Linked DNA regions of Homo sapiens: region 2 is linked to region 1. Evidence: fine-mapped expression QTL. Tissue or cell type: whole blood. Region 1 holds a variant in brackets; the other region holds the start of a gene. All regions are shown on one strand. Distances are from middle to middle.

Region 1 (5,196 bases):
TTTAAAACATATTTCTATAGGTTTGGAGCAGATGTGCGAGGCCGACGTACCTTTCACCTGCTTCACGCTCCTGAGGGCGTACTTCAAGGTGGCCAGCGTACTGGCCTTGCCCTTGGCCTTCTTGTCTGCAGGGAGGTGGACCTTCAGCTCCTTTAGTGTTTTTATCAGTTCTTTGTGTGTGTCCACTTTCGAAGACTGGTCGCTACTGCAGGATTCAAGAAAGAGGCAGCCAAATGTTAGCTTCCTAGGTGTCCTTTCCTGAAGAAACGTGCCTCTTGCCCATTTTCTCAGCCTCGGCTCTAGAGATGTTCTGGTCTGGGTGGCCCTTTGTGGGGCTCTGTAGATTTTCTCAGCCTCGGCTCTAGAGATGTTCTGGTCTGGGTGGCCCTTTGTGGGGCTCTGTAGATTTTCTCAGCCTCGGCTCTAGAGATGTTCTGGTCTGGGTGGCCCTTTGTGGGGCTCTGTAGATTTTCTCAGCCTCGGCTCTAGAGATGTTCTGGTCTGGGTGGCCCTTGGTGGGGCTCTGTAGGACATCTAGCAGCATCCCTGGCCTCACCCACAATAGACCAGGGAGACCCTGGCCAAGTATGACAATCAGAGCTGTCAACAGACATTGCCAGATGTTTCTCGCTGGGAGACAAATTGTTCCTGGTCAAGAGTCACCGCTCTAACCCAACTGAATGCTGGAGAAGTCCCTCCAACTGTGTTCTTTTCCCTGAAGGGTTAGAGCTAGGCTTTGCTCAGGAAAGGATACTGGTCGACCCATAGTCTGGTGCAGTGGACTGTGCACTAAGCTGTGCCCTTCTTCCCTGCCCCAGGTAAAGAAGGACTGAGTGATGGGATTACAGAGGACAGCAAAGTGACTTCCTGGGACATAAAAGTGAGCCATGAACACAGAGAAAAGGGGATTGTGGAAAAGGGTCTTCAAACATTAATTGAGGATACAGAGATGTTAGAGAGACAGGACAGCGGGGCACTGGCTGATGAAGATGGGCCTGTGTGGAACAGAGGGTGCAGAAGGAATGATGGAAATCAAGGTTTCTCAGGCAATGCAAAGTGCCCACATGCCCTGGACAAGGAGCCGGGTTCTGCTCCCGAGGTGACATGAAAATTGACATAGGGTAAGTTTGTTACAAACACCTACGAAGGGTGAAGAATGTTCCAGATGAAAATGCCCAAGACTCAGGCAAAGTCGGCTTCGAGTAGAGCTGGGAGGAGCTACAGGTACTGGAGCGACATCCCGGGGGCTCTGGACGGTGAGGGGACACAGTCAGTGTCTGAAAGGCCAGAGTGAGGCTGGGTTCGTACCCACATAGCCACACAGATGGGTTTTAGCACAGCTTAAAAAAAGCCACGTCACTCCCAGAAAACTAACCTCCAATAAGAAGTCTTTCAATTTCTCTAAAACCTCTATGTATGAAGTTCTAATTGGCCTTACCTGCAGCCACTTGTAGATGGGTTGTGTTCAGATTTTGCCATCATCAGGCTAAAGGTATCTGGACTATGAAAACAAAAAATAAAAGCAAAATTTAGACAATTGTATGCTCCAGACACATCTTCCCCTGCCATCCTACCAGTGATAACAGGCTAGATAATACCATGGTAAGACAATTTTTTAAAAATACAAGGTTAAGATAAAACTGGAATATAAAACCTTCAGACATCAGAAAAACTAAGTACCAGGACACAGAAACACATGATAACAGGAGCCAGTTCCTTTTCTATAAACTGCCCAGTGTTGTATAAGCAGCCACTGGCTGGGTTACCCACCACTGCTACCTCCCAAGATCTCCTTACACTACCCAGTACCTGTCTGTTGGCAACTGGATCTGCGAACTCGACAGGGCCTCGTTATGAGGAAGGACAGACACTGGCACATTTTAGGTATTTTCAAAAATCTTGAAAAACTTGGTAATCATGATTTAAAGATTGCAAAAGCAATCAAATCACAGCAGAAATGAGCCACTGAGAAAACAACCTGCCCAGCCTCCATCTGGCCAGAGGCTGAACTCACCTCTGGCGGGCATCCGGTGGCTCCACCAGCATCCCCAGCTCCTTCCCACTGTCGTCACAGTCACTGCCCTGCGAGTCCCGCCCCGTGGAGCAGTTTTCGTTGGTCTCATGTCCACTGGAGCCACTGCTCATGTCCACATCTTCCTGCAGTGGGACCTGGCTGGGCTGGGGCTCCACGGGCTCCTTGGTGGGGTTACTGGGGCTGGGCGGAAATTCCGCGTATCCATTCATGCTGGGCTCTGGAACGAAGCTGGCAAACAGAGGGATGCTGTCACGCATTAACAAGCACACGCACAAGGGGCGCTGCAGCCATCAGGTAGAGCACCCATTTGACTCTTTCTGTTACTAATGAAACTGCAGTCTCTTTCTTTCTTCTCTCTGTCTCTCTCTCTCTCTCTTTCTTTCTTTCTACTTTGGAGACAGGGTCTGGCTCTGTTGCCCAGGGAATGCAGTGCCTGGGCTCAAGCGATCCTCCCACCTCAGCCTCCAGGGTAGCTGGAACCACAGGCACTCACCACCATGCCTGGTTAATTTTTTGTATTTTTGGTAGAGACAGGGTTTTGCCATGTTGCCCAGACTGGTCTCGAACTCCTGAAGTCAAGCGATCTGCC[C/T]GCCTCAGCCTCCCAAAATGTTGAGATTACAGGCCAACCACACGCAGCCAAAACTGCCCTTTCATCGGGATCAATCACACGCACGTTAGTTCATCACATTACTTATTTGTTCTTATTGACAAGAGCTCCTATCTGCCATGGATTAGGAAGATGGTTGAATGAGGCAGCCTCAGCCCGACATAGAGCTGCTGACGGCCTCATCAGAAGGCAGACAAGAGCACTGATAATCAACACCCGGCCTGTGGGGTGCTGGGAAAAACACATGGTCCCTCTGAATAGGTGATCTGCCTTTTATAAATTTCCCCAGATGATGGTGGGGTGGGGGAGCCGGGTTCAGAAATCTTGGCCATTACAGCACGGCACAGTTACAGGAGGAGGAGCCAAGGCTAGCAGGAGACATGGGGACAGACAGGGCTTGCCGGGTAAAGAGGGCAGAGGGGCCTGGCAGGTGTGGAACCCTCCCAGCAGCTCGGGGATCCCAGGCCCCACAAGCATGTACAAGTGGGATGGAGAGGGGCCAGGACAATGTGGCTTCACATTTACTGGGAATGGTTGGGAGCTGCTGAGGCACTCTGAGTGCCAGGCCCACGGAACTCAGCTTGCATTTGGACAGGCTTGCACTGCTGTGCTGGTCAGAAACTTAACCTCTGCACTTTGGGGTAGGTGGGTGGAGTGGCTGAAATTAGAGACAGACCAGCGATCATCCTGGACACAAACTGAGGGGGGGTGAACAGAGACAGGGAGTAGGGAGGGGTGGGACTGATTAGCAGGTGAGAGGCCAAAATGCCATCCCGGGTCCTCCCTTCTTCACCCAGTGATGTCTCCCCATCCCCAGGACAGCGTTTTCAGCAGAGTCCCAGCAGGAAGCAGGCACCCACTCAAGCGGGGCACTGGAGAGAGCCAGATGAAGGCCCTGCTTGACACAAGTGGTCATGCTTAATGAACACAGCTGTGAGGCTCTGGGGTGATGCTGCTGACTACAGACATGATGCTAAGCACCCAACACACAGCTTCCCAGCAACTCTGGATCACGGTCTACATGGTGCGCAGGAGATCGTTCTACGGAGCAGCCAACAGGGGTGGGTAGCTCACCCCAGGCCACACAGTAGCAGATGACAGCCCTGGATTCCAGGCCTGCCGGCATCTGAAGATGGGACCCCCACCCTACACCCAGGCTCAGCTGTGTGGGGGCCTCCTGCTTCCTGCCACTGCACTGTGCTCAGCCCCAACTCTGGCCCAGTGTGGCATTCCACTTCTGCATGGCATCCGTTTGGCCCTTCCCAGGGCAGCTGGAACAAAGGGAGAGAAGGGTTTCTGGATTCCACACCCCAAATCTTGTGAAACATCTTATGCTCCAGTTCCCATCTAGCTCTGGGAGAGCCTCCCCTTCCACCTCCTTCCCACCAGTACCCACGTGAAATGACCAAGGATCATACAATTGGTCGGGGGGAGGGATCATTTTCAGCAGCCCTAGAAGTCCCGAAGGGTCCCAATCATTTGCCACAAAGTGAAGGTGCGTCCGGCTGCTTGTCGCTGAGATGGAAGGAGCATGAAGAGTGCACTGGAGTCCAAATACCCCTGAGGAAGTGGCTAGTGCTGAGATCCCTGCTACCCCCGGCCATGGAAGGCCCAAGCCATGGCCAAGGCTGGACAGTCAAGAGCTCTACCACCAGGAAGATGCTTCGTGAGGAAGCTGTGGGAGAAGAACGGACACAGGAACAGAAATCCTGTGGGAAGGAGAGGTTCTCCTGGAGACGCTTCACCCACTGAACACCCCCAGGTGCCCTCCCCAACAGGGCAACTCTAAGAAAGGGCTAGAAACCAGCCAGCAATACTGAGGGCTACACATACAGGGTGCCGGATTCCAACAGCTGGCCCCAGGAACTGAATGGCTAAGCTCCAACAAGAGCCTTCAGCATCCCCTTCCCCAGGTCGAGCCCATTCGCCGGTGAGCCACTCCAGGACAGCCTGGTGAGAGGCGGGGCTCATGGAGAATCCACCCACATCAGTGTCTGGAGAACAGCAGGGCCGACTAGACCTCGCCTTGTTCACAAACTAATAAACAGAAGAAAGCCAACACGGGGCTGTGGAAAACACACACAGCAAAGACAACTGAACACAACCCTCATGCCACAGAGGAAGCAGCAAATTAAGACACCATCTACTTTTCATCCTAAGAATTCAAGAAATGATGGATTCAATGAAACAAGTAATGAGGGATGAGATAAGGCCACTGACTGAGATGAAAATGCCACATTAGAATGGAAAACTAGAAAGGACAAAGTTCAGAATCAATAAAAAGAAAATGGCTTCAGTGATAGGAGATGCGTGACAGACTTTTAAAATGCAAAGGGAAAGGAGAAGAGAAGAGAGATGGAGGACAGCCGGGTTTTACCTGTGGATTACAGCTCTTTCTGAAAGAGACGAGAACAATAAAACAGAAACCATAATGAGCGAGACACATAAAGAGAACCATCCTGAACCAGAGACAGATCTGAATCTGCCAATCAAAGGACAAGAGTCCAACGCCTAAGTGCATCCAGATGACAAACGGTATCTTCAAGGATAAAGA
Region 2 (5,109 bases), 46 kb before region 1:
CTAGAGAAGAGGGCCTAGCAAAGAAATGTGGGGCACAATATTTAAGAAGACAATATTCGCCGGGCACGGTGGCTCATGCTTATAACCCCAGCACTTTGGGAGTGAGGCAGGTGGATTGCTGGACCAGCCTGGGCAACACTACAAACATCTCTCTCTACAAAAAAAATACAAAAATCAGCCAGGCATGGTGATGTGCGCCTATAGTCCCAGCTACTTAGGAGGCTGAGGTGGGAGGATCACTTGAGTCTGGGAGGTCGAGGTTGCAGTGAGCCATGATCGTACCACTGCACTCCAGCCTCCAGCCTGAGACAGAGTGAGAACCTGTCTCAAAAAAAAAAAAAAAAAAGACAACATTTAATATCCAGTTGTGAAGAGCCACTGCCAGAACCTGAGAAGGAATGGTGGAACAAGAAGAGCAAGAAGACTAGACAGAGAACAATTTTTTGAGATAAGGTCTCACTCCCATTGTCCAGGCCAGAGCACACTGGCGTGATCTCAATTCACCGCAGCCTTGACTTCCCGGGCTCCAGTGATACTCCCACCTCAGCCTCTCGAGTGGCTGGGACTACAGGTGCGGGCCACCATGTCTGGCTAATTTTTTGCATTTTTGGTAGAGATGGAGTCTTGCTATGTTGCCCAGGCTGGTCTTGAACTCCTGGGCTCAAGCGATCTGCCTAACTCAGCCTCCCAAAGTGCCGGGATTACAGGTGTGAGCCACCGTGCTCTGGCAAGAACAATGTTTTAAGAAGCATGAGGATGTTGAGTATCAAATGCCGCAAAGTTCGGGTGAGAAAACTGAAGAGTCTACTCGGCAATCAGGAGTTCATTGGAGACTCTGGCAGAAGTTTTCTATAGTAGAATGGCAGGAAATGTAGCCATACTGAAATTTTGTTAGGGACAAACAGGTGATGAGGAAATGAAGAAAATGAGAATGAAGACTGTTTTTAAGAAACTGGAGTGTGAAGAAAACAGTAGGACAATAAGTAAGAAACCTCAACGGGGTGTGAGGACAAGTTCCCCAGGATAAAGTGGATAAGATGGAGGTTGGCACTTAAGATTTGGAGCAGGTTCAACAGAGAGGAATGGCAAGGTTTGAGGGATGGTTCCTGACGTCTAAGGGCGCATTTAATATTCTTTCAAGGTTAAGGTGGGGCAAGATCTGGAGGAGAGAGGATAGTACCCCAAGTGTCATCATCCATTGACAGGTCAATAGGTAGTACAGCGACATGGGAACAGAGCAGGTGTGCACAGAAAGCATGGTTTCCCAGGGAGGGCAGTATTTTTCCATGAGGATGCAAGAGTGAAAAGCCTGGGAGATTCCACGAAGAGCTGAGGGGCTTCTGAGCCACAGCTTAAACCTTAACCCTCCTCCTCTCAGATACATTCAAATCCAAGTACTGATAATAATCTAGTAAGACCTGGGCTTCCCTGGCTACCGTCTATCAAGGAATGCCAGTGTCTGCCTCTGGGCAGTGCGCGTTGGATTTGGGTTCTCTGCGGGGTCTTGCTGATCTTAAAGACAATGCAGGGGCCTTGTGAGTCTCACCTCTGTACCCCCAGCACATAACAGGTGCTCAACACATTCGCGAGGGGAGCGCTGAGCAAAGCGGAGGCCCGGGTTCCCTCCTGGAGAAACCTGCTTCCCCTCCAAGGCCTCAAGCGTCCGCTCCTTCACTGACCTCAATCGTTGATTTCGGCTGCACTTCCTATCCCTGGGGGAGCTTTCAACGCTCCGCCGTCCAGGCCGCCGGGCCCCGCAGCCCGCGCCCCGCTCTCTAGGGCTGGGCCCCCAGGGGCTGGACGACCTCTCTCGCCTTCGCTTTCTCAAGCGTAAATCGGGCGGCGGGGGCTGCAGAGCCTTCATCTCTTCCTCCGTCCCGGGATGTCGGAGAGACGGCAGCCCAGCCTCCGCCACCGCAAAGCTGCTTAACGGGCAGCGCGAGTCCCTCGGGCACCGTTGGAGGCCGTTGCTCACCGTTGGGCAAGTGCTTTAAGAAGCACGAGGATGTCGAGTGTCAAATGCGGCAAAGGGCTCAGAGCTCGCCGCCAAGGGGCGTGGCCTCCGGGCCGCGGCGGCCTCTGGGAGTTGTAGTCCCGCCTCAACTTGTGGTGGCCTCTTTAAAAAAACAAAAAACAAACAAACAAAAAAACACTGGCGCTTGGGTCCGTCGCTGCCTCGGTGTCCCTGTCGGGCTTCCCAGCAGCGGCCTAGTGGAAAAGTAAAAGATGTCTGAATATATTCGGGTAACCGAAGATGAGAACGATGAGCCCATTGAAATACCATCGGAAGACGATGGGACGGTGCTGCTGTCCACGGTTACAGCCCAGTTTCCAGGGGCGTGTGGGCTTCGCTGCAGGAATCCGGTGTCTCAATGTATGAGAGGTGTCCGGCTGGTAGAAGGAATTCTGCATGCCCCCGATGCTGGCTGGAGAAATCCGGTGTATGTTGTCAACTATCCGAAAGATAACAAAAGAAAAATGGGTGAGACAGAAGCTTCATCAGCAGTGAAAGTGAAAAGACCAGTCCGATTTAATAGTGTTGGGTCTCCCATGGAAAACAACTGAACAGGACCTGAAAGAGTACTGTAGTACCTTTGGAGACGTTCTTATGGTGCGGCAAAGCCAAGATGAGCCTTTGAGAAGCAGAAAAGTGTTTGTGGGGCGCCGTACGGAGGACATGACTGAGGATGAGCTGTGGGAGTTCTTCTCTCAGTATGGGGATGTGATGGATGTCTTCGTCCCCAAGCCGTTCAGGGCCTTTGCCTTTGTTCCATTTGCAGATGATCAGATTGCGCGGTCTCTTTGTGGAGAGGACTCGATGAAAGGAATCAGCGTTCACATATCCAATGCCGAACCCAAGCGCAATAGCAATAGACAGCAAGAAGTGGAAGATTTGGTGGTAATCCAGGTGGCTTTGGGAATCAGGGTGGATTTGGTAAGAGTAGAGGGGGTGGAGCTGGTTTGGGAAACAATCAAGGTAGTAATATGGGTGGTGGGATAAACTTTGGTGCGTTCAGCATTAATCCAGCCATGATGGCTGCCCCCCAGGCAGTGCTGCAGAGCAGTTGGTGTACGATGGGTGTGTTAGCCAGCCAGCGAAGCAGCCAGGCCCATCGGATGATAACCAAAGCCAAGGCAACATGCAGAGGGAGCCAAACCAGGCCTTCGGTTCTGGAAATAACTCTTGTAGTGGTTCTAATTTTGGTGCAACAATTGGTTGGGGATCAGCATCCAATGCAGGGTCGGGCAGTGGTTTTAATGGCGGCTTTGGCTCAAGCATGGATTCTAAGTCTTCTGGCTGGGAACGTAGACAGTGGGGTTGTGGTTGGTTGGTATAGAATGGTTGGAATTCAAATTTTTCTAAACTCATGGTAAGTATATTGTAAAATACATATGTACTAAGAATTTTCAAAATTGGTTTCTTCAGTGTGGAGTATATTCAGTAGTATTTTTGACATTTTTCTTTAGAAAAAGGAACAGCTAAAGGAATTTTATAAGTTTTGTTACATGAAAGGTTGAAATATTGAGTGGTTGAAAGTGAACTGCTGTTTGCCTGATTGGTAAACCAACACACTACAATTGATATCAGAAGGTTTCTCCTGTAATATTTTATCCCTGGACTTGTCAAGTGAGTTCTTTGCATGTTCAAAATGGAAGCCATGAATTAGAACTACATTCTTTATTCCTTGTTTTAATTTGAACCCCACCATATGGATTTTTTTCCTTAAGAAAATCTCCTTTTAGAAGATCATGGTGTCACAGTTTGGTTCTTTTGTTTTGTTTTTTAACACTTGTCTCCCCTCAAACACAAAAGTACAATATGAAGCCTTCATTTAATCTCTGCAGTTCATCTCATTTCAAATGTTTATGGAAGAAGCACTTGGTTGAAAGTAGTGCTGTAAATATTCTGCCATAGGAACACTTCTGTCTACATGCCTTCTCATTCAAGAATTCGTCATCACGCATCACAGGCCGCGTCTTTGACGGTGGGTGTCCCATTTTTATCTGCTACTCTTTATTTCATAGAGTCGTATCAACGCTGTGAACGCAAGGCTGTGATATGGAACTAGAAGGCTGTTTGAACTTTTGAAACCTTGTGTGGGATTGACGGTGGTGCTGAGGCATGAAAGGCTAGTATGAGTGAGAAAAGGAGAGAGCACGTGCAGAGACTTGGTGGTGCATAACGGATATTTTTTAACTTGGCGAGATGTGTTTCTCAATCCTGCGGCTTTGGTGACAGTGTGCAGACAGCAATGATAGCAAATAATGTACGAATGTTTTTTGCATTCAAAGGACATCCACATCTGTTGGAAGACTTTGAGTTTTTGTTCTTAGATAACCCACTTTATTTGAATGTGTTAAGTGAAATGATACTTGTACTCCCCCTACCCCTTTGTCAACTGCTGTGAATGCTGTATGGTGTGTGTTCTCTTCTGTTACTGATATGTAAGTGTGGCAATGTGAACTGAAGCTGATGGGCTGAGAACATGGACTGAGCTTGTGGTGTGCTTTGCAGGAGGACTTGGAAGCAGAGTTCAGCAGTGAACTCTGGTGTCTCAAAGAAGGGTAGAAGTTCTAATGTCTGTTAGCTACCCATAAGAATGCTGTTTGCTGCAGTTCTGTGTCCTGTGCTTGGATGCTTTTTATAAGAGTTGTCATTGTTGGAAATTCTTAAATAAAACTGATTTAAAAAAAAAAAACCAAAAATCTAAGTAAAGGGGTCGGAACTACATCTCCCAGGAGGCCCCGCGGCTCGCCTCTGGCGGGGCGGGGCTGGAGGGGGCGTGGTCAAGGCCTCGGCTCCTCCGAGCGCCTCCCAGCTCACGGCGCCCCCCGAACCCGGCTCCAAGGGACTCGGTATTCCCCAGCGCCGGCTCCGGGCAGTCCCGGAAGGGCTCAAGGGCTGGGCGACTGGCTGATCGAGACCGTCCGGGTCCTGGCTCTCGGGTCACTTGCAGAGGCCTGAGCAGAGCGTAGGGAGGGCTGGAAGGGAGGAGCCCCGGGGGGCGGCGGTGCTGAACCGGGTAGAGTCTTGAAGGTCACGGTCAGGACTGGAGTGGGAGGGGAGTCAGAGGCCTGCTGCGGAGGCCCAGGTTAGAAACGAGGCTG

The links. PIP is the estimated chance that this variant, and not a neighbour inherited with it, causes the effect.
Region 2: it holds the start of LINC02610, and the variant in region 1 is fine-mapped to the expression of LINC02610 in whole blood (TOPMed, PIP above 0.99).

What each region holds. Positions count from the first base shown.
Region 1 is chr2:238,275,693-238,280,888 of GRCh38, forward strand. It overlaps PER2 (period circadian regulator 2), which reads right to left. Exons shown (of 23, transcript NM_022817.3): 2 at 2,015-2,263; 3 at 1,439-1,501; 4 at 51-205. The coding sequence starts at 2,244. Among named protein-coding and RNA genes, the nearest start is that of PER2, 10 kb to the right of the region's middle. RefSeq lists an enhancer at 3,625-4,249. The variant C/T (reference allele first, on the strand shown) is at 2,625.
Region 2 is chr2:238,229,655-238,234,763 of GRCh38, forward strand. LINC02610 (long intergenic non-protein coding RNA 2610) reads right to left here and starts at 2,023. Exons shown (of 3, transcript NR_026926.1): 1 at 1,680-2,023. It also overlaps the pseudogene TARDBPP3. RefSeq lists an enhancer at 4,588-5,089 and silencers at 4,790-4,919, 5,070-5,109.